Homo sapiens: one gene and its partners. The protein of the gene in region 3 binds, or shares a complex with, the protein of the main gene of each other region. Each region holds a gene or a part of one and is shown on either strand. Other genes may lie near its edges.

Region 1 (7,431 bases), on a different chromosome or scaffold from region 3:
AAGGGTTATTGCCTGGTCTTGATAATATAAAAGCTCAAATACCAAGTATGGGCGGAAGTTGGGGAAAATTTATTTTGAAACCAGTCAAAACTGTGATTGAGCATTTTAACAAACAAGGACAAAACCTGTGTGTGTATAACAGAAGACAGCATCTAGGAATGGAAAAATCACACCTCATCCTAGAGGTCAGTACAGGCATTTGTGGGATTTCTGGTTTGGAAAACCACATTTAAAGAGAAACACTAAAAAGTCTGGGAAAAAAGATTCAGCAAATAAATAGTAGGAAACAATATAATGGTTATGATTTCAAAAACAGCTGTTAGTCACTGTGGAAAACAGTATGATAGCTCCTCATAAAAATTAAACACAATTATTGCGTGATCCAGGAATTCTACTTCTATTTACATACTCAGAAGAACTGAAAGCAGGAACCTGTACAACAATGTTCATAGTGTCATCATTCACAACAGTCAAAAGACAGATGCAAGAGTCCATCAATGGAGGAATGGATAGACAAAATGTGGTGTATTCATACAATGAAATATCATTCAGCCTTAAAAAGGAAGAAAATTCTGACACATAGATGAACATTTATGGATATTGCACTTAGTCAAATAAGCCAGACACAAAAGGACACATATTGTATGATTCCTCTTATATAAGGTACTTAGTCAGATTTATAGAGACAAAGTAGAATGATAGTTGCCAGGGACTAGGATGAGGAGGGAATGGTGAGTTAACATTTAATGGGTAGAGTTTCCACTGGGAACAATGAACAAGTTACGGAGGTGGATGGTGGTGTTGCAAGCAGAACAGTGTGAATGTACTTAATGCCATGAAATTAAGCACTTAAAATGGTTAAAATAGTAAATTTCATGTTATATGTAACCACATACACACACACACACAAACCTCCTAAAAAGCAAGAGCTGTTAGTTGTTGCGGAAGAAAAGCCTGCATGAAGAATGATGTACTCTGTTCATGTACATAAAATGGTAGCAGAGGGGATGTTGGTTAGCCATTTTTCCATCTCAGCTGAAATAAAAATTTTTAAAAACTAGTTTAATTTATTACCCAAAGGATCAAAGGTTAGCCATAAGAAAACTTTTATTGCTAAACATTTCTTAAATTCTAGAATACAATACTAAATGAAACAAGAAAATTCAAGAATAGGTTTTCATCTTCTTGGAATGCTGTGAATGTGTCCTGCAGAACATATCTGTAGAACAGTGCATGAACTAGATGTTCTCTTAAGATCTTTCACTCTTCTTTGATTCTACAAAATTTATCCATTGAATCTTGATAGCTTTATTGTCTTGCAACTAAAACAAAATTTAACTTTAGGGGAAAGTTCTTCCGTTAAAGAAAATTTAAAATTATTATAATGTCCATGACGTATAACTATTTCTATAGACTTTAACTAATAATCATCTAAGTTTGTAAGACTCATTGAAAATTTTTTAGTAAACAAAAAAATCAAGAGCAGACTTTTTCCTGCCATATTTTTACTTACCTTTAAAAATATACACTCACCTTTTGATTGTTCACAGAATGATTGTCTGCAATGCATTCAAACTTACCGAACAGAGACTAAATCAAATTCAAACTTACGGAAAGGGACAAAATCAGTATTGTGTATAGCAGCTATTGCATTGTTTTTGAATATTTATCAAAAATGTTTACTAGATGTTTACTAGAAGAATACCTATTCTCCCAGAAATGAAAGTGTTTTAAGAAAAACAATAACAGAACAAAACCCTCATCAGAGTATAGTAGTCATAATAATATCTTAAATTACAGGATTTTTTTCCTAAACATTTTAAGATGCGTACACACACCATAATATTCATTTATATCACCATCCACTAAGAGAGCATTTCTTACCAGGTATTAAATCAGATACTAATGATAATTAGAATGCACTAGATCTTACAATCTCTAAAACTACATCAACATGTTTATTCCTTCTTTTTTGAGCGACTCGGTTATTTGGGGGATTGTTGCTTCTGTTTCTTCAAGTGGCCAGTAGTTTTGCAATTAGCACACACAACTTCTAAGTTTGCTCGACAGGAAATTATCTTCCTCATCTAAACCATACCCACGGCTTCCTTGCTAAAGTGCAATTATGTTTTTCAGTCTGAATATAAACTCAAAGTTTCCTATGAAATTCTAGGACCACCCTTTCAAATGCGAGATTAGAGCAGGTGCCTTCAAATAGGGCTCATCTTGTCACCTGCAAAGTCTCCTTTATCTTTCAACACCAGGGGCCACTGGAAAGTGGGAGTCTAAAGTTGGGAACCCATTCTTTACCACGTGTTTAGTTGTGCTGAACTCTGGTTTCCAAACAAATATTGTTCTGAGGCACAGATGAGATGACACAACTCATCTCTCCGAAAGATGTTGAGAAGTTGAGCACCGTTTTCTCCTATGGGTCTCTTGGTAAGCTTCCAGAACTTGGACCTGCGGGTGTATGTGCGAGCTATAAAGCAGGGTGAGTGCACGGTCTACCTTGGTGGTGCTACTTTTCTTGAGACCAGTTGGTTTTAGCATTTATTTTACACCTCATTGAGGCTAACATCACATGTTTCTATCAGGTAAAAGAAGAGGGTTGGAGAAGCAAGTAAATGCATGTGTGGGAGTGTAGGTAGCACCAGAGGCGGAGGCCTGGGTTCCTAAGATCAAACGCAAGGAGCTGGCACCCCGGGATTCCCTCTCTGACTTCTGCTTAAGGGGCCGGGGTGGAGGGGCGGTAGGTAGCCCACAGAGTCCCAGCAGGCGGGAAGCAGGCACAACAGCGGACCTTAGCACGGGGTGGGACCCAGGCTCGGTCCAGGAGCCTCGGCCTGTCCAGCACTACATTCTTACTTACAATGCTTGCAATTTTTGGTTAAGGTGTCCGTCAGCTTCTGCAGTTTCTTGCGGTTCATGTCTGGCGCTCAGAGAATCGGGCCGCGGCGGGGGTCTCTGGGCGCGCGGCTACCGAGACCCTCGCGGGACCCCCGCGAGCCCTGGTGCTGGGTCAACGCGGTGAGGTCTCAGTTACTGATCTCGTGCGCGGCCCTAACAGACGGTGTAGCCAAGGCAACGGCTCAGCCCGCCGCGGATTGGCTCCCAGGCTGCCCGCGACGTAGCCAAAGCTACAGCTGGGCCCCGCCCATCGGCTCAGCGACTGCTCGCGCTGGGTTCTCGGTGCGCGGTGCCGCCGGCAGGGTCCCAGCTGGCCGCCTTGAGGGCTGTATTCTGACTGTTGACGTTGGAGTTTAAATGTTCAGTTGTTGCTGGCTTTTGAGTTCGCAGCCTCTTTGCTTGATTGCAGTGTAAATCATTAAAATCTGAAATGTGGTGTGCACGCTGTATGAGAGGTGTTTCGGGTCGTGAGCGTCACGCCTCAAGGGAAGGCCCAAGATCTTGGACATCTTGGGGGCTGGAGCAGCGTCACAAAATAGCAAGGTGCTGTCCAGAGGACGATCTTGCCGGGCCTCCCGTCAGAGGGCTAGAAGCTTGCTCTTTGGGCGGAGCCACTGCTTAGGTTTTCAGTCTTGGTGAGGTAACAGGAGGCAGTCTGTCACCTGAGGTCTTCGAGCTTTTAGTTGTGTTTCTGAGAGCAAGGGGAAATTGGAATACAGCCACGGGTTGCCTAAGGAGCGGGACGCGTTCCGAGGTCACTAGGAGATTTCATCACTGTGTGCACATCACGGTGCACCGACACAAACCTAGATGGCCTTGCCTACTGCACGCCAGGCTGTATGGTACAACCCATTGCTTCTGGGCTGCACCCCTGCACAGCAGGTCACAGCGCGGAATGCTGCAGGCAGCTAAAACAGAGTGCTAAGCACTCTGGGGAAGGTGCAGTGTTCCAGTACAGTGTTACATCTTATGGGACCACTGTCCTAATGTTGTCTGATGTTGACTTAAATGGCGCTATGTGGCTTGTGACTGTAGTTTTTTTCTTTTCCCACTGCCCTCATCTCACTTCCAAAAGATGGAGGTTGTCTGTGGAATCTGAGGAAAGCCACGAGGAATTTTTATACTGCTTAAATAGGCATTCCCCCCAATGAAAACGGGCTGACAACACCACTTGGGTGTGGGGTACAGCCCAATCTTGCTTTTCCGGAAAATATCTCAGCAACCTTGGTCCTTTACTTATTTGAAAGACAAGTTCTGTGCCGGCAGACAAAGGATATTCCTTACATCTTCAGGGTGGGAGGACTTTCTGCTTTTCCTGATCACAGAGGGGATATCCTCTTTCAGCTAAGGCAGCAATAAAAAGGGGTGGCTCAGCCAGGATCACCAAATCTACAGTATTCTCCAGAGTGCCTGCTCGTTTAACTTCAGAGGGGAAAATGACAAACTATGTTATTGTACACATACTGGCATTTTTAGACTGAAGGCAGAAAAATTCTACTAACCATGAGTAATAATCCCAAATGAAATAATTCCAATGTCGAGGCCTCTGGTTTTTCTTTACTGTTTCATTTGTTTGTGGAATGAAGGATTGGGATGCTGTTTGAAACTAGAGCAAAGGGTGCTTGGTAAAGGCATGGACTGTGTTATCCTAAAGCAAATGTCCTAACAACAGTTACCCGATATGAATTGATGGTGATTATGAGTTTGTAACAGTAGTATTTTTAAATAGTGTTTCTACATATCCCCTTGTCTAGAAGAGTGAAATTCCTGAGACCATAGAGAACAAAAGGGAAAGACTGGACATATTTGAATTATACTTACCTGTGACACCTTATTGATTTCTGTTGGATCACAGAGCTGTAGCAAATACTTAATTCCTAGAGATTGCTGCACTGCTCACTTCAAGAGACAAGGAACCGAAAGAGTGGTTGTCAGTAATTACTAAGAGACGCTGTGGGCTCCCCACCTGATGTACTAGGCCTGTGTTGGGGAGCAGGCCTGCGCTGTTGGTGAGCACATTGGTGGTTATTTCTGGTGGCCTGGGGAGATCGCATACACCGGGTGCTTGCTATAGGTAAGCTAATTAGTTATTCCTTCACGAGTTTAAGGCCTAGAGCCCATCAGCCATGTTCCCTTAAAGTTAAAAAAATAATAAAAAGATGTAGGGGCAATATCACAGATTGTTGAAATTAAAATATGCCGGGCCAAAACTCCTTAACCTGTTGAGCAAACTTTGTAAGTCACCTCCTCCTCTTCCACTTCTTTTATCCTCCAGTTCTTTCTTCCATGCAGTTCTTTTAGCCAAAAAAATCAACCAATCTATCTATCTATCTATCTATCTATCTATCTATCTATCTATCATCTATCTATCTATCTTTCTATCTATCTATGCAAATGCATTGTTTTGTGAATCTCACTTATCTAAGAGAGTGATTTGCAGAGTTGACCTTACAATAAGGTCTTATCATCTTTTTCAGGGAAAGCACAATGTTTATTTGGAGTATGTTTTGTCAACATACGGGTAAACTTCAGAGCTTTCATTACATTCTTGTGAAGTTTTGGAACTTAATATTTTTAGACTTTAGAAACAAGTTGCAGGCCTGATTGAGTCAGTGAATAACATTTCAAAGCAAGTTGAAGTTTCTATTTGTAGTTTTAGTTGCTTATGCTGAGTAGACACAGGACTGCTTTCCCCCAAGAGCTTTCTCAGAGTAAGGCAATTAAGCCTAAGAGGCTACTTCATATTAAATCAATCAATAATGGAATAATAAAGGATTGTGTTTAATTCGTATTGGACATAAATTTTACTGTGCATGAAATGATCATAGAACTTTCCAAAAATCCAAGCAACCTCAAGATGAATAACTTTGTAAACACAGAAGTACATTAAAGTGACTATTAATGCTATGTTTCCTTTAGTTTTGTGTGCAAAACAATCTTCCCTTTGACTCAGCATTCACTGGATTGTTGCCATGATAAACAGCTTGGACCTTGACTTGATGAAATTGTTTTCCTTAATGTGGACCTTTTATGATGAAGGCCTTTGGAAACTGTTGAGGAAATGACATCATAGAATTGATCTCCAAGTATATCACAAATCTATTATAAAATTGCTTGAATAAAAGGGAAATAGGTTAGTTACCTGCATAATAGAAATTCAACTTTACTAATTTTATTTTGTGGAGACAGCGATAACAAAAATAAGAGTTATATGTGTGACCAGTTGTTTGGGTGGTCGAATCTCCAAATCTCTACCACTTGTCACTCTCCCCTTTGCTGTAGGGTTGTGGTGACAAGCTAGAGTCTCAGTATTCAGACCCACAGAACACTGTCTTATGCACAACTTCTGCATATTTTTCACCCCAACCACTCCCAGTGGCAACTCTTCAAAGAGCTCTTTCTGACACCCTACGTGAAGTGAAGTGAACCCTTCTCCACCCAGCCATTCTCTTCCTTGATACTATTTTTTTAGCACTTGCTACTGTGTGAAACAATTGTTTTTTTCTAACCTCTCCTTCCCACCAGACTAAATCACATGATCTCTCTCTCTCTCTCCATATATTTAAGTCTATTTCACTCGCTGTATCTCTGCATTTGTTTGTTTATCATCTGTCTGTACCTCTGAAATTTGACCACATGGTCCATGTTGTGTGGTCTGTATTGATGGAAAGTGGTAGGAGAACCACTCCAGCAGGAATGAACCCCAGGTTTCCCTGCAGCACCCTGGGGCTGAGTCCCTGGTACAGTAACCACAATGGAGCCTTTAAAGGGAGCTGGGCAATATAGAAGAGCTTTCATTTAAACTGACCTTTCTCCAAAATTCACACTTGATATTCACTGGTGTTGACGTATTTCTAGACTTTTTTTTTTTTTTTTTTTTTTACTGTAATCAAGTGACCAGCCAGTAAGACAAATGCCTAAGGTTTACTAAGGATAGGATTCTTGTATCTCAACATGTAATTTATAAAGTTGTAAATTAAGATGTGGCCTGTGACAGTTAATTATTATGATAGCCATAATGTCAGCAGGTCTGAAGTTTTCGGTAAAGAATCTGGCTCTTTGAGACCTGGCAGAGCTGACCAAGAAATCCTGCTGAATGTGCTGGGCTTGATCCCCTCAGCACTGGGTCATGCGCCACTGTAGCCAGAGTCATGGCAACTGTACTACCTGCAAAGCTGCCTCAGAGACAGAAGATACCCACACCTTTTTCTTACCAAGCCCAGGGCATCTTGCAACATTTGAGCCCTAACCAGGGAATTCATGAGCATCACTAAGCACAGAACAGGACCTGACCTACCCAGAGACCCCACCAGGCAATGCCTGGTCCTCTTAGCCAATGTCAACCAGAAAATAACTGGTATCACTTCTGATACTTGCCACCATTGTTTAAACCACTTCCCCCAACTCCATAGTTCTTGCTCCCTAAATGAAAAGGAAGCACCCAAGATCGCCTACCTTGAATCATGTTACCCCTTTAGTAGACTCTGTTTATTAGCCTGCACTCTCTAACCCCTTTCACTCATA
Region 2 (7,802 bases), on a different chromosome or scaffold from region 3:
TTTTGAGAGAGAGTCTTGCTCTGTCGCCCAGGCTGGAGTGCAGTGGTGTGATCATGGCTCACTGCAACCTCTGCCTCTCGGGTTCAAGTGATTCTCCTGCCTCGGCCTCTGGTACAGCTGGGATTACAGGTGTGTGCCACCACACCAGGCTAATTTTTGTATTTTTGGTAGAGATGGGGCTTCACCATGTTGGCCAGCCTGGTCTTGAACTCCCGACTCGAGGTGATCTGCCTGCCTTGGCCTCCGAAAGTGCTGGGATTACAGGAGTGAGCCACCACGCCCGGCCAGACATGTATGTTTATTTACTTATGTTCTATTTCACAATAAAAGAAGAAATAAAGCAATAACATGAGGAACATAGCTATAAATGGCTGGGACACACTGGAATCCAATTCTAGCACTCTTTATCCTGCTAATCGAACCCAAGGAATAGGCCCCAACCCAGCTCACTTATATCCTTGTGCTGTAGCCTGGAGCAAACCTTGTCATTTCTCTCAGCCTCAGAGTTTCTCATCTGTGAAACCAGGAAACCACTGACTGGCTCTTTACTTCACTAGGGTGTTGTCAAGCTCACAGTGCTTTATAAATTGCCAGAAAGCACACATTATGATTGGTATTTTATGGTTTTTGTTTTGTTTTGTTTTTTTGAGATGAAATCTCATTCTTGTTCCCCAGGCTGAAGTGCAATGGCACGATCTTGGCTCACTGCAACCTCCACCTCCCAGGTTCAAGCGATTCTCGTGCCTCAGCCTCCCGAGTAGCTGGGATTACAGGTGCCTGCCACCATGTCCGGCTAATTTTTGTATTTTTAGTAGAGACAGGGTTTCACCATGTTGGCCAGGCTGATCTTGAACTCCTGACCTCAGGTGATCCGCCCGCCTCGGCCTCCCAAAGTGCTGGGATTATAGGCATAAGCCACCACGCCAGGCCTTATTGTGTTTTTAAAACAGCTTTCTTAATATATAATTAATGTACAATAAACTGCACATAAAGTGTACAATTTGATGAGGTTTTTGGTCTTTTTTTTGAGATGGAGTTTCACTGTTGTTGCCCAGGCTGGAGTGCAATGGCACGATCTTGGCTCATCACAACCTCCGCCTCCCAGGTTCACGTGATTCTCCTGCCTCAGCCTCCCGAGTAACTGGGATTCCAGGCATGTGCCATCACGCCCAGCTAATTTTGTATTTTTAGTAGAGACAGGGTTTCTCCATGTTGGTCAGGCTGGTCTTGAACTCCCGAACTCAGGTGATCCACCCACCTCAGCCTCCCAAAGTACTAGGATTACAGGCTTGAGCCACCATGTCTGGCCAATTTGATGAGTTTTAATACATGTATATACCTGTGAAACAATTACCACAATCAAGATAATGAACATATTCCTCACCTCCATGAGTTTCCCTGTACTCCTTTGTAATCTACCCCTCACTTCCCTACTGCCATGTTCCCAGGCAGTTAGTCTGCATTTTCTAGAATTGTATTTTATTTGAGATGTGATGTCACTATGTTGCTCAGGCTGGAGTGCAGTGGCCTGATCATAGCTCAACCGTGTTAGCCAGGATGGTCTTGATCTGCCCGCCTGGGCCTCCCAAAGTGCTGGGATTACAGGTGTGAGCTACCACACCCGGCCACATTTAAATATTTCTAGTTAATTTTTGTATATGGTATGAGGTAAGGATCAAGGTTTAGACTAGGCGCAGTGGCTCATGCCTGTAATCACAGCACTTTGGGAGGCTAAGGTGGGTGGATTACCTGAGGTCAGAAGTTCGAGATTAGCCTGGCTAACACAGTGAAACCCTGTCTCTACCAAAAATATGAAAATTAGCCGGGCATGGTGGTGCACACCTGTAGTCCCTGCTACTTGGGAGGCGGAGGCAGAAGAATCACTTGAACCTGGGAGGCAGAGGTGGCAGTGAGCTGAGATCACGCCACTGCACTCCAGCCTGGGTGACAGAGTGAGACTCCATCTCAAAAAAAAAAAAACTCAATATTTATATTTAGACAGGCATGGTGGCTCACATCTGTAAGCCTGGCACTTTGAGAGGCCGCGGTGGGAGGATTGCTTGAGTTCAGGAGTTCAAAACCAGCCTGGGCAACATGGCAAAACCCTGTCTCTACCAAAACAACACAAAAATCAGCTGGGTGTGGTGGTGCGTGTCTGTAGTCCCAGCTACTCAGGAGGCTGAGGTGGGAGGGTGGCCTGAGCCCAGAAAGCAGAGGTTGCAGTGAGTCAAGATCTCACTACTGCACTCCAGCCTGGTGGACAAGGCCAACTCTCTCTCAAAAAATAAAAATAAAAATTAATTAAATACATATTTACATTAAAATATTTCCAGTTGATTTTTGTATATAGTGTGAGGTAAGGATCAAGGTTTTTTATTTTGGATTTTGTCTTTCCATATGGCTATCCAATTGCTTCAGCACACATTTGTGGAAAAGAGTATCCTTTCTCCATTGAATCTCTTTGGCAACTTCATTGAACATCAATTGATCATATATGTGTGGATCTATTTCTGTTCCATTAATCCATATATATTTACATATTTATGCTAATACCATTACCGTAGCTTTAAAATAAGTCTTGAAATCACAGAATTTAAGTTCTCTTTTGTTCTTCTTTTTCAAAATGGTTTTGGCTATTTTAGGTCTTTTGCATTTCCACATAAATCTTAAAATCAGCTTGTTAATTACTGAAAAAAAAAAAAGGCTGCTGGGGCCAGGCACAGTGGCTCATGCCTGTAATCCCAGCACTTTGAGAGGCTGAGGCGGGCAGATCACCTGAGGTCAGGAGTTCAAGACCAGCCTGGCCAACATGGTGAAACCTCATCTCTACTAAAAATACAAAAAATTAGCTGGGCATGGTGGTGTGCACCTGTAATCCCAGCTACTCAGGAGGCTAAGGCAGGAGACTAGCTTGAAACCGGGAGGCGGAGATTGCAGTGAGCCGAGATCACATCACTGCACTCCAGCCTGAGTGACAGAGTGAGACTCCACCATAAAAAAAAAAAAAAAAAAGCTGCTGGAGTTCTGATTGGAACTGCACTGAATCTGTAGATCTCTTCCTTGCAGGAGGTTTTTTTCTGATTAATCCTGGTTGCTCCAGCAACAGTCCTCAACTCATCAATGAGCCCACCTTAACTTAGAACAGGACCAGTTTCACTGCAGGTCCTTAAACCTGTTGCTGCTCCTTAAACACCCTGTGAATGTACACACCTCCAGCCTTTGCACATGTTATTTCCTTTTTTTTTTTTTTTTTTGAGACAGGGTCTTGCTTTGTTACACAGGCTACAATGCAGTGGCCCAAACATGGCTCACTGCAGCCTCGACCTCCCACGCTCAAGTGATCCTCCTGCCTCAGCTTCCTGAGTAGCTGGGACTACAGGCACACGCCACCACACCCAGCTCACTTTTGTATTTGTGGTAGAGACAGGGCTTCGCCATGTTGCCCAGACTGGTCTCGAACTCCTGAGCTCAAGCGATCCTCCCACCTCAGTCTCCAAAGTACTGGGATTACAGGCATGAGCCACCACACCTAGCTCTCATTCTCTACTTACGTCTACTGGGCTCCACCATACTCACCCTCAGCTCAAATATTACCCCTCTATGAACATGTCTCTAACCCATCCCAGACCCTGGCTGAATCATTCATTTGCCTGGGTTTCACACCACTTTGTCCTCATCTCCCTCACAGGCACACAGAACTTTTAATTACTAGTTAATATCACTTAAGTGGCCGTTACTTGTTTATACATCTTTCTCCCCTATTAGATAAAACTCCTTCAAGCAGGGACCATATTATTTCTTATATTTTGAATTAAACCTTTTGAGATAATCATAGATTCATATGCAGTTCATAAGAAATAAATACAAAAGAGATCCCATGTACCCTTTTCCCAGTTTCTCCCAATGGTAACATCCTTAAAAACTTTAGTACAATAACACAACCAGAAAATTGACACTGATACAATCCACTGATCTTACTCAAATATCCCCAGTTTTACATGTATGCCGTGTGTGTGTGTGTGTGTGTGCATTTGTAGTTAAAGACATCTTTTTACTATTTAAACTTTAACAATGACATTAGGACGTTTTGGAAGTAACGTAGTAAAGGCAGTTAAGCAAGCTACTTAGGGTATCGTTGGAGCCCAGAAGAAGCACCTAGTCCACTTTTGGAGGAGTGGTGATGGTGAGGGAATGGGGAAGGACGTCAGAATATGCCTTGGTCAAGGCCCGCTACTAGTAGCTGCTCAAATAACTGCGTTAAATTATGTTGAACCCAACGTTATTTTCCATGTTTTCTTATGCAAATCCTCGCATCCCTGAGTGTTCCATTATTTTCATATTTATTTGGCAGGTGGAACATTCGAGGCTGGGAGCCCTTACATGCCCCGCGAGAGGTCACGCAGTTAGGAAGTGACAGGAGCGAAGTCAGCCCAAGTCTGCTGACTCCAAGCCCAGTGCTCTCTCCCCCTAATGGCGGTACGCCGTGCACATATCCTTACCACGTATGCCTCATCCCTATTCGGAACTTTGCCTCCAACCCTCTTCCTGTTTTCTTGGCTGTCTTACAAGGGAGCCTTTTCAGGCAGCAACTCCAGAGAGAACCGCCAGAGCGTGCAACAGCAAACACTAACCAGCCCAGCCGTCAGCCACGCAATCATCACTCCCTGGCCCAGTGCGCGGCAGAACTGGCGCAAGCGCACGCCGGCAGGTTGTACCCAGAATCCGGGCCCTTGCCAGACGGGGGCGGAACCGGAAGTCGCTGTACATCTCATGGTTGCTAAGAAACGGAGCTTCCACAAACCAGATAGAGGTTCTCCAGCTTTTCTTTGATTGTCTCTGCTTTAGCGTCTCTAAATCCGGTCACCATGTCGGACCCCGAAGGCGAGACCTTGCGAAGCACCTTTCCCTCTTATATGGCCGAAGGCGAGCGGCTCTACCTGTGCGGGGAATTTTCTAAAGCCGCGCAGAGCTTCAGCAACGTGAGTCGAGCTCTCAACCTATCCATCACCCCATCACCCGTCACTTTTTTTTTTTTTTTTTTTTTTTTTTTTTGTGACGGAGTTTCGCTCTTGTTGCCTAGGCTGGAGTGCAATGGCACGATCTCGGCTCGCCGCAACCTCCGCCTCCCGGGTTCAAGTGATTCTCCTGCCTCCACCTCCCAAGTAGCTGGGACTACAGGCGCGTGCCACCATGCCCGGCTAATTATTTTGTCTTTTTAGTAGAGATGGGGGTTTCACTGTGTTGGCCAGGCTGGTCTCGAACTCCTGACCTCGTGATCCACCCGCTTCGGCCTCCCAAAGTGCTGGGATTACAGGCGTGAGCCACTGCGCCTGCCCCCTGCCCTCACCTTTTGATTGCAGATAACACTGAGGTCTTGATGATGCCTGGAGGACCCTGTTGTTTCTATTATTCACTGATTTTTGATGGACACACTGCTGTCACAGATAAGCCCTGTGGTTGGCCATTTTCTACCAGTTCCCACTTGCAATCTCCATTCTCTGCGTTAACAGTGACCTTTTCCTCCACTTTTACTTAAATGTTTCATGATTAACCGGCCTCCTTCCACAGAGCAGCCTTACCTTCCCATCATTTGCTGGCAGATTGGATGGGAGGTTGCATGCAGAAGCCTCAATGTCCCCAGCACACCGTTGCTTATAAAAGGTGGCCAGTAAGCAACATATGATTATTATTATCAATTTTGAGACAAAGTTTTGCTATGTTGCCCAGGCTGGAGTGCAGTGGCAAGATCTCAGCTCACTGCAACTTCCGCCTCCCCAGGTTCAAGCGATTTTCCTGCCTCAGCCTAGGGAGTAGTTGGGATTACAGGCATGTCCCACCACGCCTGGCTAATTTTTGTATTCTTAGTAGAGACAGGGTTTCACCATGTTGGCCAGGCTGGTGTCGAACTCCTGACCTCAAGTGATACACCTGCCTCGGCCCCCCAAAGTGCTGGGATTACTGAGGTGAGCTGCTGCACCAACCAGCAACATTATTATAGTAACCCTAGTATAAATTGCATCATCCCACCCTAAGGGGATTGGGTGATGGTTTTTGTTGTTGTTGTTGTTGTTGTTGTTGTTGTTTTGGAGACGTAGTCTTGCTCTGTCTCCAGGCTGGAGTGCAATGGTGCGATCTTGGCTCACTGCAACCTCCACCTCCTGGATTCAAGTGATTCTCCTGCCTCAGCCTCAGGCACACTGCTAAGCAGACTGGATTTTTGTTGTTGTTAAGATGGAGTTTTGCTCTTCTTGCCCAGGCTGGAGTGCAGTGGCGCAATCTCGGCTCACCCCAACCTCCACCTCCCAGGTTCAAGCGATTCTCCTGCCTCAGCCTCCCGAGTAGCTGGGATCCCAGGCATGCACCACCATGCTCGGCTAATTTTGTATTTTTAGTAGAGACGGGGTTTCTCCATGTTGGTCAGGTTGATCTCGAACTCCCCACCTCAGGTGATCCCCCCCCACCTCAGCCTCCCAAAGTGCTGGGATTACAGGCGTGAACCACCCCACCCAGTGCATACTCAATTTTATAGATTAGGAAATATACAGAAGTTGAGCAACATGCCCAAGGTCGCTAAACTAGCAAGTGGCAGAGGAAGGATTCAAAGCCGGGCTCAGACTCCAATGCTGAGGTGCTAACCACAAAACTACACATCTGACATCTGCATAAGGAAACTGTTGTTTTTTTTTTGTTTGTTTGTTTTTTCAGAGACAGGATCTCGTTCTGTCTCCCAAGCTGGAATGTGGTGGCACAATCACAGCTCAATACAGCTTCAAACTCCTGAGCTCAAGTGATCCTCCCACCTTAGTGTTCCAAGTAGCTGGAGCTACAGGCTTATGCCACCACGCCTGGCTAATTTTTTCTTTTCTTCTTTTTTTTTTTTTTTTTTGTAGAGATAGGTGTTTTGCTATGTTGCCCTGGCTGGTATTGAACACTTGAGCTCAAGTAATACTCCCGCTTTGGCCTCACAAAGTGCTAGGATTACAGGTATGAGATACAGTGCCCTAAAAACATGTTTTTATGACCATTTCTTTTGCTCCAAATTGCCCACTTCTTCTGCTCCAAATTGCCCACTTCTTCTTCTAGATGGAGTGATAGGATAACCCTGTAGTTTTGAGACTTCCTGTAAGATCAAGCTTCTCAACAGCTCCCCAGAGTCGTTTGTCCCTTTCAGTCACCAACCACACCCTAAAACCAGAAATGATGACCAGATAAGTGAACAATTGAGTTCGGTAGCCCTGTCCCCACTTATTCTCCTCCTGCTGGATCATGTCCCATCCTGAAGTACCCACCAGCAGAGAAAAAAGAACACCCTGAGGGAAGGGTAGCCTTGGATGAGAAGCAGTCACTTTCCAGAAAGACAGTAGCTACTTCCTCTTCTTAGAAAAGTAGGAAGGTCTTAGAAAGGGGTGGGTACCAGGAGACAGAGGGTTGCAGTGAGCCAAGATCATGCCATTGCACTCTAGCCTGGGCAACAAGAGTGAAACTCTGTCTCAAAAAAAAAAAAAAAAAAGACCAGGTCAGGTGGCTCATGCCTGTAATCCCAGCACTTTGGGAGGCCAAGGCAGGTGGATCACCTGAGGTCAGGTGTTTGAGACCAGCCTGGCTAACATGGTGAAACCCTGTTTCTACTAAAAATACAAAAAATCAACCGGACGTGGTGGCGAGTGCCTGTAATCCCAGCTACTCCGGAGGCTGAGGCAGGAGAATTGCTTGAACCCGGGAGGCGGAGGTTGCAGTGAGCCGAGATCGTGCCATTGCACTCCAGCTTTGGCAACAAGAGCAAAACGCCATCTCAAAAAAAA
Region 3 (7,197 bases):
CCTGGCTAACATAGTGAAATCCCGCCTCTACTAAAAATACAAAAAAAAAAAAAAATTAGCCGTGCATGGTGGCAGGCACCTGTAGTCCCAGCTACTCAGGGGACTGAGGCAGGAGAATGGTGTGAACCTGGGAGGCAGAGCTTGCAGTGAGCCGAGATCGCACCACTGCACTCCAGCCTGGGTGACAGAGCGAGACTCTGCCTCAAAAAAAAAAAAAAAAAAAAATTAGCCGGGCATGATGGTGGGTGCCTGTAATCCCAGCTACAGGAGGCTGAGGCACAATAATTACTTGACCTCTGGAGGTGGAGGTTGCATTGAGCTGAGATCCTGCCACTGCACTCCAGCCTGGGCAACAGAGCAAGACTCTGTCTCAAAAAACAAAACAAAACAAAACAAAAAACCCCAAAATCCTTCCATACTCAAGTCCCACAGTCAGCCCTGTGGAACCTGCAGATACAAACAGTTGTCCCTCTGTATACTCAGGTTTTGCATTCCAGGACTGTTGTATTTTCTTTTCTTTTCTTTTTTGGGACTGGGTCTTGCTCTGTCACCCAGAATGAAGTGCAGTGGTGCTATCACTGCTCACTGAAGCCTCAACCTCCTGAGCTCAAGCAGTCCTCCTGCCTCAGCCTCCCAAGTAGCTAGGACTAGAGGCATGTGCCACCACATCTGGCTACTTTATTTTTTGTAGAGTCAAGGATCTCACTATGTTGCCCAGGCTGGTCTCGAACTCCTGGCCTCTAGCAATCCTCCTGCCTCAGCCTCCCAAAGTGCTGGGATTACAGGTATGAACCACTGTGCCCGGCCTGCCCATCTCAATTTTTTTTAACTTGAAAGGATGAATGATATATGTGAACACATGGTGTTCAACGGTCAACTGTACTTCACTGTGAGCATTTATTATGTGTTGGATGCTGGACTAAGAGGTTTCCGAATGCCATATATCACGTGCCAATAGGTATCCATGGCATACGCATATCATACCCCTTGCACAGATGACAAGACAGAGGCTTGGGCTGATTAAACTGCTTAAGGTCACAAGCAACCATGCAAGATTACCCTTTTTTTTTTTTAAGACGGAATCTCACTCTGTCACCCAGGCTGGAGTGCAGTGGCGCAATCCTGGCTCACCGCAACCTCCACCTCCTGGGTTCAAGCCCCTCTCCTGCCTCAGCCTTCCAAGTAGCTGGGATTACAGGCGTGCGCCACCATGCCCGGCTAATTTTTGTACTTTTAGTAGAGATGGGGTTTCACTATGTTGGCCAGGCTGGTCTCAAACTCCTGACCTCAAATGATCCGCCCACCTCAGCCTCCCAAAGTGCTGGGATTACAGGTGTGAGCCACCTCGCCCAGCCATGATTACCTCTTAATAATATCAACAAAAGCAATAATAATAGCTTACACACAAGGATTCTGCAACCTCAGGATGACCAACAACTGGGCCGAATAATTATTTGCCGTGGGGTGCTCTCCTGTGTTTTGCAGAATGTTGGGCAGCATCTTCAACTCTGCCCACTAGATGCCAGTGGCAGACACACACCCACAACAGACATCCATGCCACCATGCCCGGCTAATTTTTTGTATTTTTAGTAGAGACAGCGTTTCACCGTGTTGGCCATGCTGGTCTCAATGTCTTAGGACATTGCCAAATGGCCCCTGTGGGGCAAACCAACCCTTTTCCAACAAGAACCACTGGTTTACACCTTATGGTACTTTGCTATGTGCCAGGCACTGTTCTAAGCACTTTACACATTTCAGGTACCTATGTTGTACTGTTACTATCCCCATTTCACACATCGAGAAACTGAGAACAATTAGGTTACTCTTAGTCCCCCAAGGTTGGACAACTATTATGCAGAGCCAGGATTCCAACCCAGAAAATCTGGCTCTAAAAATCTATGCTCAGGCCAGGTGCAGCGGCCCATGCCTGTAACCCCAGCACTTTGGGAGGCTGAGGAGGAAGGATTGCTTGAGCCCAGGAGTTTGAGACCAGCCTGGGCAGCATAGTGAGACCCCATCTCTACAAAAAGTAAGAAAATTAGCCAAGCACAGTGGTGTATGCCTGTAGTCCCAGCTACTCAGGAGGCTGAGGTGGAAGGATCGCTTGAGCCTAGGAGGTCAAGTCTGCAGTGAACTGTTATCCAACCACTACACTCCAGCCTCAACAGCAGAGCAAGACCCTGTCAGAAAGAAAGAAGGCTGGGCGCGGTGGCTCACACATGTAATCCCAGCACTTTGGGAGCCAAGGCCGTGGATCACTTGAGATCAGGAGTTCGAGACCAGCCTGGCCAACATGGTGAAACCCAGTCTCTACTAAAAATATAAAAATTAGGTGTGGTGGCACGCACCTATAGTCCCAGCTAGTCAGGAGGCTGAGGCTCGAGAATCGCTTGAACCTTGGAGGCAGAGGTTGCAGTGAGCCGAGATCATGCCACTGCTCTCCAGCCTAGGCGACAGAGCAAGACCCTGTCTCAAAAAACAAAAAACAAAACAAAAAAAAACGCGGGTGCAGTGGCTCACGCCTGTAATCCCAGCAGTTTGGGAGGCCGAGGCGGGCTCACGCCTGTAATCCCAGCAGTTTGGGAGGTCAAGAGATTGAGACCACCCTGGCCAATATGGTGAAATCCCTCTGTACTAAAAATACAAAAATTAGTTAGGCGTGGTGGCGTGTGCCTGTAGTCCCAGCTACTCAAGAGGCTGAGGCAGGAGAATCGCTTGAACCCGGGAGGCGGAGGTTGCAGTGAGCCGAAATCGTTCCACTGCACTCCCACCTGGCAACAGAGTGAGATTCTGCCAAAAAAAAAAAAAAAAATAGAGAAAATAAATTACAAGAAAGTATGAAGTACAGTTCAGTCGGTTCTGAACCCATGAGAAGTTTTAAGAGACAGAGAAGGAAAAACATGAACTAAGTATGAGTTTTTGCCCAGAAACGGTTTACCTAGACTCATGCTGGAGAAATACCTTTGTCACACCATGAAGATTGGATGGGCACTGTTGACCCCTGACCCTCTGTACCCTCTGGAGCCATCTTACCTAACAGTTGTATCTTTTTATGTAACTCAGCCACCTGAGAGTGCACAGAGGGCTTCCCTGCACCTCTGTGGAAGGATCCTCCCTTGGAACGGCCTGGGGTCCACGCCTGGGCTGTGCCCTTGCCTCGGAGGTGGCTGGGTTTGCCCGAAGCCTCCCTGCCCTTGACCCTGGAAGAGGGCGTCGAAGCCTGGTCCTGAGGAGGCAGGGCGTTGGCGGAGGCCGCCCTGCACAGAGGAGATGTCATGATGGGGTTGGGGCTGAAGGCCCCTAGGGGTTAGGGGGATAACTAGGAGTCAGTCGCCCCTGTCAGGGATCCGTCAGCTCGGATTCCTAGGGCTCTGAAAAATGCACTTTCCGACCGCTAGGTGGTTGCGCTCCGCATCTCTCGGTTGCCAGGTAACCGCCTCCCCGTCTCTCTCCACTGTTTCCATGGAGATCACCCGCGTTCCGTGGCTGACACTGCGTTCTCATTGGCTGAGGCTGCATAGAGGGGCGGTCCCAACAGTGGGCGGGGTAGAGCCGCGCCGCAGGACGGAGGGTCTGGACACTTTGGGGTCACGTGCTCATTCCGTTTCCCTACCTCCCCCAACCTTATCCCGCCCCTGGGGGTTCGCGGGCATTTTTCAGGAACTTTCTTTCCGGCTTGAGAAGCCGCCACTCCCAAGATGGAGGTACGCTGCGCCGCCATTAAGAGCTAGCCCTCAGAACTATCCTCTCTAAGGTTTCACAGTCCTGCCCAAGATGGCCGTCTCGGCTCTGGCACCGCCCCCACTCCTGCCTCTCCCAACATGGCGACCCTGAGTCTCCGTTCCCGGTGCGGAACGTACGACCGGAAGTGACGGGGTCCAGAAATTTCCGCTTTCTTTCTGCAGCAGGAACCGCGGCTGCTGGACAAGAGGGGTGCGGTGGATACTGACCTTTGCTCCGGCCTCGTGTAGGTGTGAACGAGCGGGTGGGAGGGCACCTCAGTTTCTTACAGGGGGCAACCGGAGGGTGCATGTGTGGGTGTGGACGGCGGAGGCTGTTAATCCCTTTGGTCTGTTGGCGGGAATTGGGTCACAATTGGGCACAGGGAGCGGAGGTTTTGAGATCTTGAGATCCTCGCCATTGATTTGAGCAAAGTGAGACTGGCCAGGATTGGGGAGATCGCTGCCCCTCGCCCCCATATCGGAAACAAAGTGAGGCCTCATTGCCTGGAAGCGATGGAGGAATCCAATTGGCTGGAAGTAGCCCTCTCCCACTGACCGGGATCCGCTTTCTTCCTGCAGCGTGAAGACACAGCGCATCTCCCCGCTGTAGGCTTCCTCCCACAGAACCCGTTTCGGGCCTCAGAGCGTCTGGTGAGATGCTGTTGCCGCTGCTGCTGCTGCTACCCATGTGCTGGGCCGTGGAGGTCAAGAGGCCCCGGGGCGTCTCCCTCACCAGTGAGTCCTCCTGTTCACCCTCCCGCCAGGCTGGAGGTGGGAGGGGCCAACATTGGGCCTTAGGGATAGGCATTTACAGCCTTTTGACTCAGTTTCCCGGTAGTGCTCCGCTGGTGGGGATGGGAGGACAGAGGTGGTATTTGGTGGAGAAGGCGCTTACCTGCCCTGGGCTGAGCTTCCTGTACCCCGCAGATCATCACTTCTACGATGAGTCCAAGCCTTTCACCTGCCTGGACGGTTCGGCCACCATCCCATTTGATCAGGTCAACGATGACTATTGCGACTGCAAAGATGGCTCTGACGAGCCAGGTGAGCCTTTTCTCTGTTCATCCATCAGATGTTTATTGAACACTGCTCAGTGCCAGGCCCTGTCTGTGTGACCAAGATACTACCTCTGCTGGCTCCCCTTTGAGTGGGCAGAAACAAGCTCAGAAGTCAGTGGTCAGTGTTATGGCCCCGGGCAGCTGGAGGAGCCCAGAGTCGTCCTCCTCCCAAGCCTCGGGGTCAGAGAAGGCTCCTCCAAGGAGGTGAGGTTTCAGTTGAATCCCGAAGGTGCTGCAGATGGAGGGGTCAACACGGGCAAACCCCTAGAAGTGGGAGACAGGGTGGGGCCAAGAGCAATCCAGCAGGAGACAGAGGTGAAGGGAGACCCTGGCTTTTTGTTTTTGTGTGTTTTGAAGAGACAGGGTCTTGCTTTGTTGCTGAGGCTGGAGTACAGTGGCATGATCGTAGCTCACTGCAGCCTGGAACTCTTGGGCTCAAGTCATCCTCCTGCCTTGGCCTCCCAAAGTGCTGGGGTTACAGGTGTGAGCCACCGTGCCTGGATGAGACCGTGTCTTTGGTTTTGTTTTTGTTTTGAGACGGAGTCTTGCTCTGTTTCCCAGGCTGGAGTGCAGTGGCGCCATCTCGGCTCACTGCAAGCTCCGCCTCCCGGGTTCACACCGTTCTCCTGCCTCAGCCTCCTGAGTAGCTGGGACTACAGGCACCCACCACCACGCCCAGCTAGTTTTTTTTTGTATTTTTAGTAGATACAGGGTTTCACTGTGTTAGCCAGGATGGTCTCGATCTCGTCACCTTGTGATCCACCCGCCTCGGCCTCCCAAAGTGTTGGGATTACAGGCGTGAGCCACCGTACCTGGCCTTGTTTTGTTTTGTTTTTAATTTTTTTTTTTGAGATGGAGTTTCACTCTTATCGCCCAGGCTGGAGTGCAGTGGCATGATCTTGGCTCACTGCAGTCTCCACCTCCCGGGTTCAAGCGATTCTCCTGCCTCAGCCTCCTGAGTAGCTGGGATTACAGGCACATGCCACCACATCCGGCTAATTTTTCGTATTTTTAGTAGAGATGGAGTTTCATCGTGTTGGCCAGGCTGGTCTCAAACTCATCACCTCAGGTGACCCACCCGCCTCGGCCTCCCAAAGTGCTGGGATTACAGGTGTGAGCCCCCGTGCCAGGTGGAGACCCTGTTTTGAAGGGCCTCAGTGAGAAGAGGCAGGAGGCGGCACTGGAGAGCTTTATTTCGAGCCCTGGCTGTGCAGTGTACAACTCTTTCCTTCCTTTGGTTTCCTTTCCTTTCTTGTGCTGTGTGCAGTGTGGGTCAGGGGCTCTTATCTGTGGATGGATGGGACATGTCTGTCCCTGAGCTGACTCCGAAAACCTTCCCTCCCTTCTTCCTCACAGGCACGGCTGCCTGTCCTAATGGCAGCTTCCACTGCACCAACACTGGCTATAAGCCCCTGTATATCCCCTCCAACCGGGTCAACGATGGTGTTTGTGGTAAGTGAAGATGCACCAGGATTCTGGAAAGGTGGTAGAGGGAGGGAGGGAGGAGGCACTGCCAGGTCTGATCTTGGCTTCTGCCTCTGCCACAGACTGCTGCGATGGAACAGACGAGTACAACAGCGGCGTCATCTGTGAGAACACCTGCAAGTACGTGGGTGACAGTACCCCTCCCATCACCCCACCCCAAGACTTTGCCTGGCTCCACCCAGTGAATCGGGCCCACTCTCTCTTCTGCTTTTCTGTATCGGGTTCTCTGTCTGTGCCAGGTGCCTTGTGAATCCTAATCCCCACCTTTCCCTCTAGTCTGGAAGCAGGTAGGATTGTTTCCCGATTCAACAGATGGGGGAACTCAAGTTTAGAAAGGGAAATGACTTCCCCAGGGTCACATAGGAGATAGCAGAGCCGGCACTTGGACTCTAAACTTTCCATTGTCACGCTCTGCAGCAGGTCCTGAAAACCGAAACACCCACAGGCAGGTAAAGTATACAACGGAAGGAGGCCAGGCGCGGTGGCTCACACCTGTAATCCCAGCACTTTGGGAGGCTGAGGCAGGCGGATCACGAGGTCAGGAGATCGAGACCATCCTGGCTGACATGGTGAAACTCCGTCTCACTAAAAATACAAAAAATTAGCTGGGTGTGGTGGCGGGCGCCTGTAGTCCCAGCTACTCGGTGGGCTGAGGCAGGTGAGTGGCGTGAACACGGGAGGCAGAGGTTGCAGTGAGCCGAGATCGCACCACTGCAATCCAGCCTGGGCAACAGAGTGAGACTCCGTCTCAAAAAAAAAGCAAAAAAAAAAAAAGCATACAACAGAAGGAGGCCAAGTATGAGGCAATACGGAGGGGTGGGGATTGTGGCATCTAGGGGAACAGCTGTTCTCAATTCCTGCCAGCTGATCCTTTTGTAGTTCATAGGCATGATGATTTATTTTTATTTATTTATATTTTTTGAGACAGGGT

Evidence for each region.
Region 1: ODAD3 (region 3) and CLXN share a complex: the UniProt entries of both Homo sapiens proteins name them as parts of the outer dynein arm-docking complex.
Region 2: ODAD3 (region 3) and ODAD4 share a complex: the UniProt entries of both Homo sapiens proteins name them as parts of the outer dynein arm-docking complex.

What each region holds. Positions count from the first base shown.
Region 1 is NC_000008.11:48,732,225-48,739,655, forward strand, and holds the start of CLXN (calaxin), read right to left. Parts: upstream 3,045-7,431; 5' UTR 2,928-3,044; coding exon 2,870-2,927; intron 2,461-2,869; exon of another isoform or gene 2,311-2,460; intron 1,036-2,310; exon of another isoform or gene 913-1,035; intron 1-912. UniProt on the Homo sapiens protein: Component of the outer dynein arm-docking complex (ODA-DC) that mediates outer dynein arms (ODA) binding onto the doublet microtubule. Seems to regulate the assembly of both ODAs and their axonemal docking complex onto ciliary microtubules.
Region 2 is NC_000017.11:41,925,859-41,933,660, forward strand, and holds the start of ODAD4 (outer dynein arm-docking complex subunit 4), read left to right. Parts: upstream 1-4,758; 5' UTR 4,759-4,865; coding exon 4,866-4,979; intron 4,980-7,802. UniProt on the Homo sapiens protein: Component of the outer dynein arm-docking complex (ODA-DC) that mediates outer dynein arms (ODA) binding onto the doublet microtubule. Plays an essential role for the assembly of ODA-DC and for the docking of ODA in ciliary axoneme.
Region 3 is NC_000019.10:11,431,739-11,438,935, forward strand, and holds the start of ODAD3 (outer dynein arm-docking complex subunit 3), read right to left. Parts: upstream 3,384-7,197; 5' UTR 3,279-3,383; coding exon 3,035-3,278; intron 1-3,034. Other genes in the region: PRKCSH (glucosidase 2 subunit beta isoform 3 precursor), read left to right, coding at 4,380-4,458, 4,651-4,767, 6,138-6,233, 6,329-6,386. UniProt on the Homo sapiens protein: Component of the outer dynein arm-docking complex (ODA-DC) that mediates outer dynein arms (ODA) binding onto the doublet microtubule. Involved in mediating assembly of both ODAs and their axonemal docking complex onto ciliary microtubules.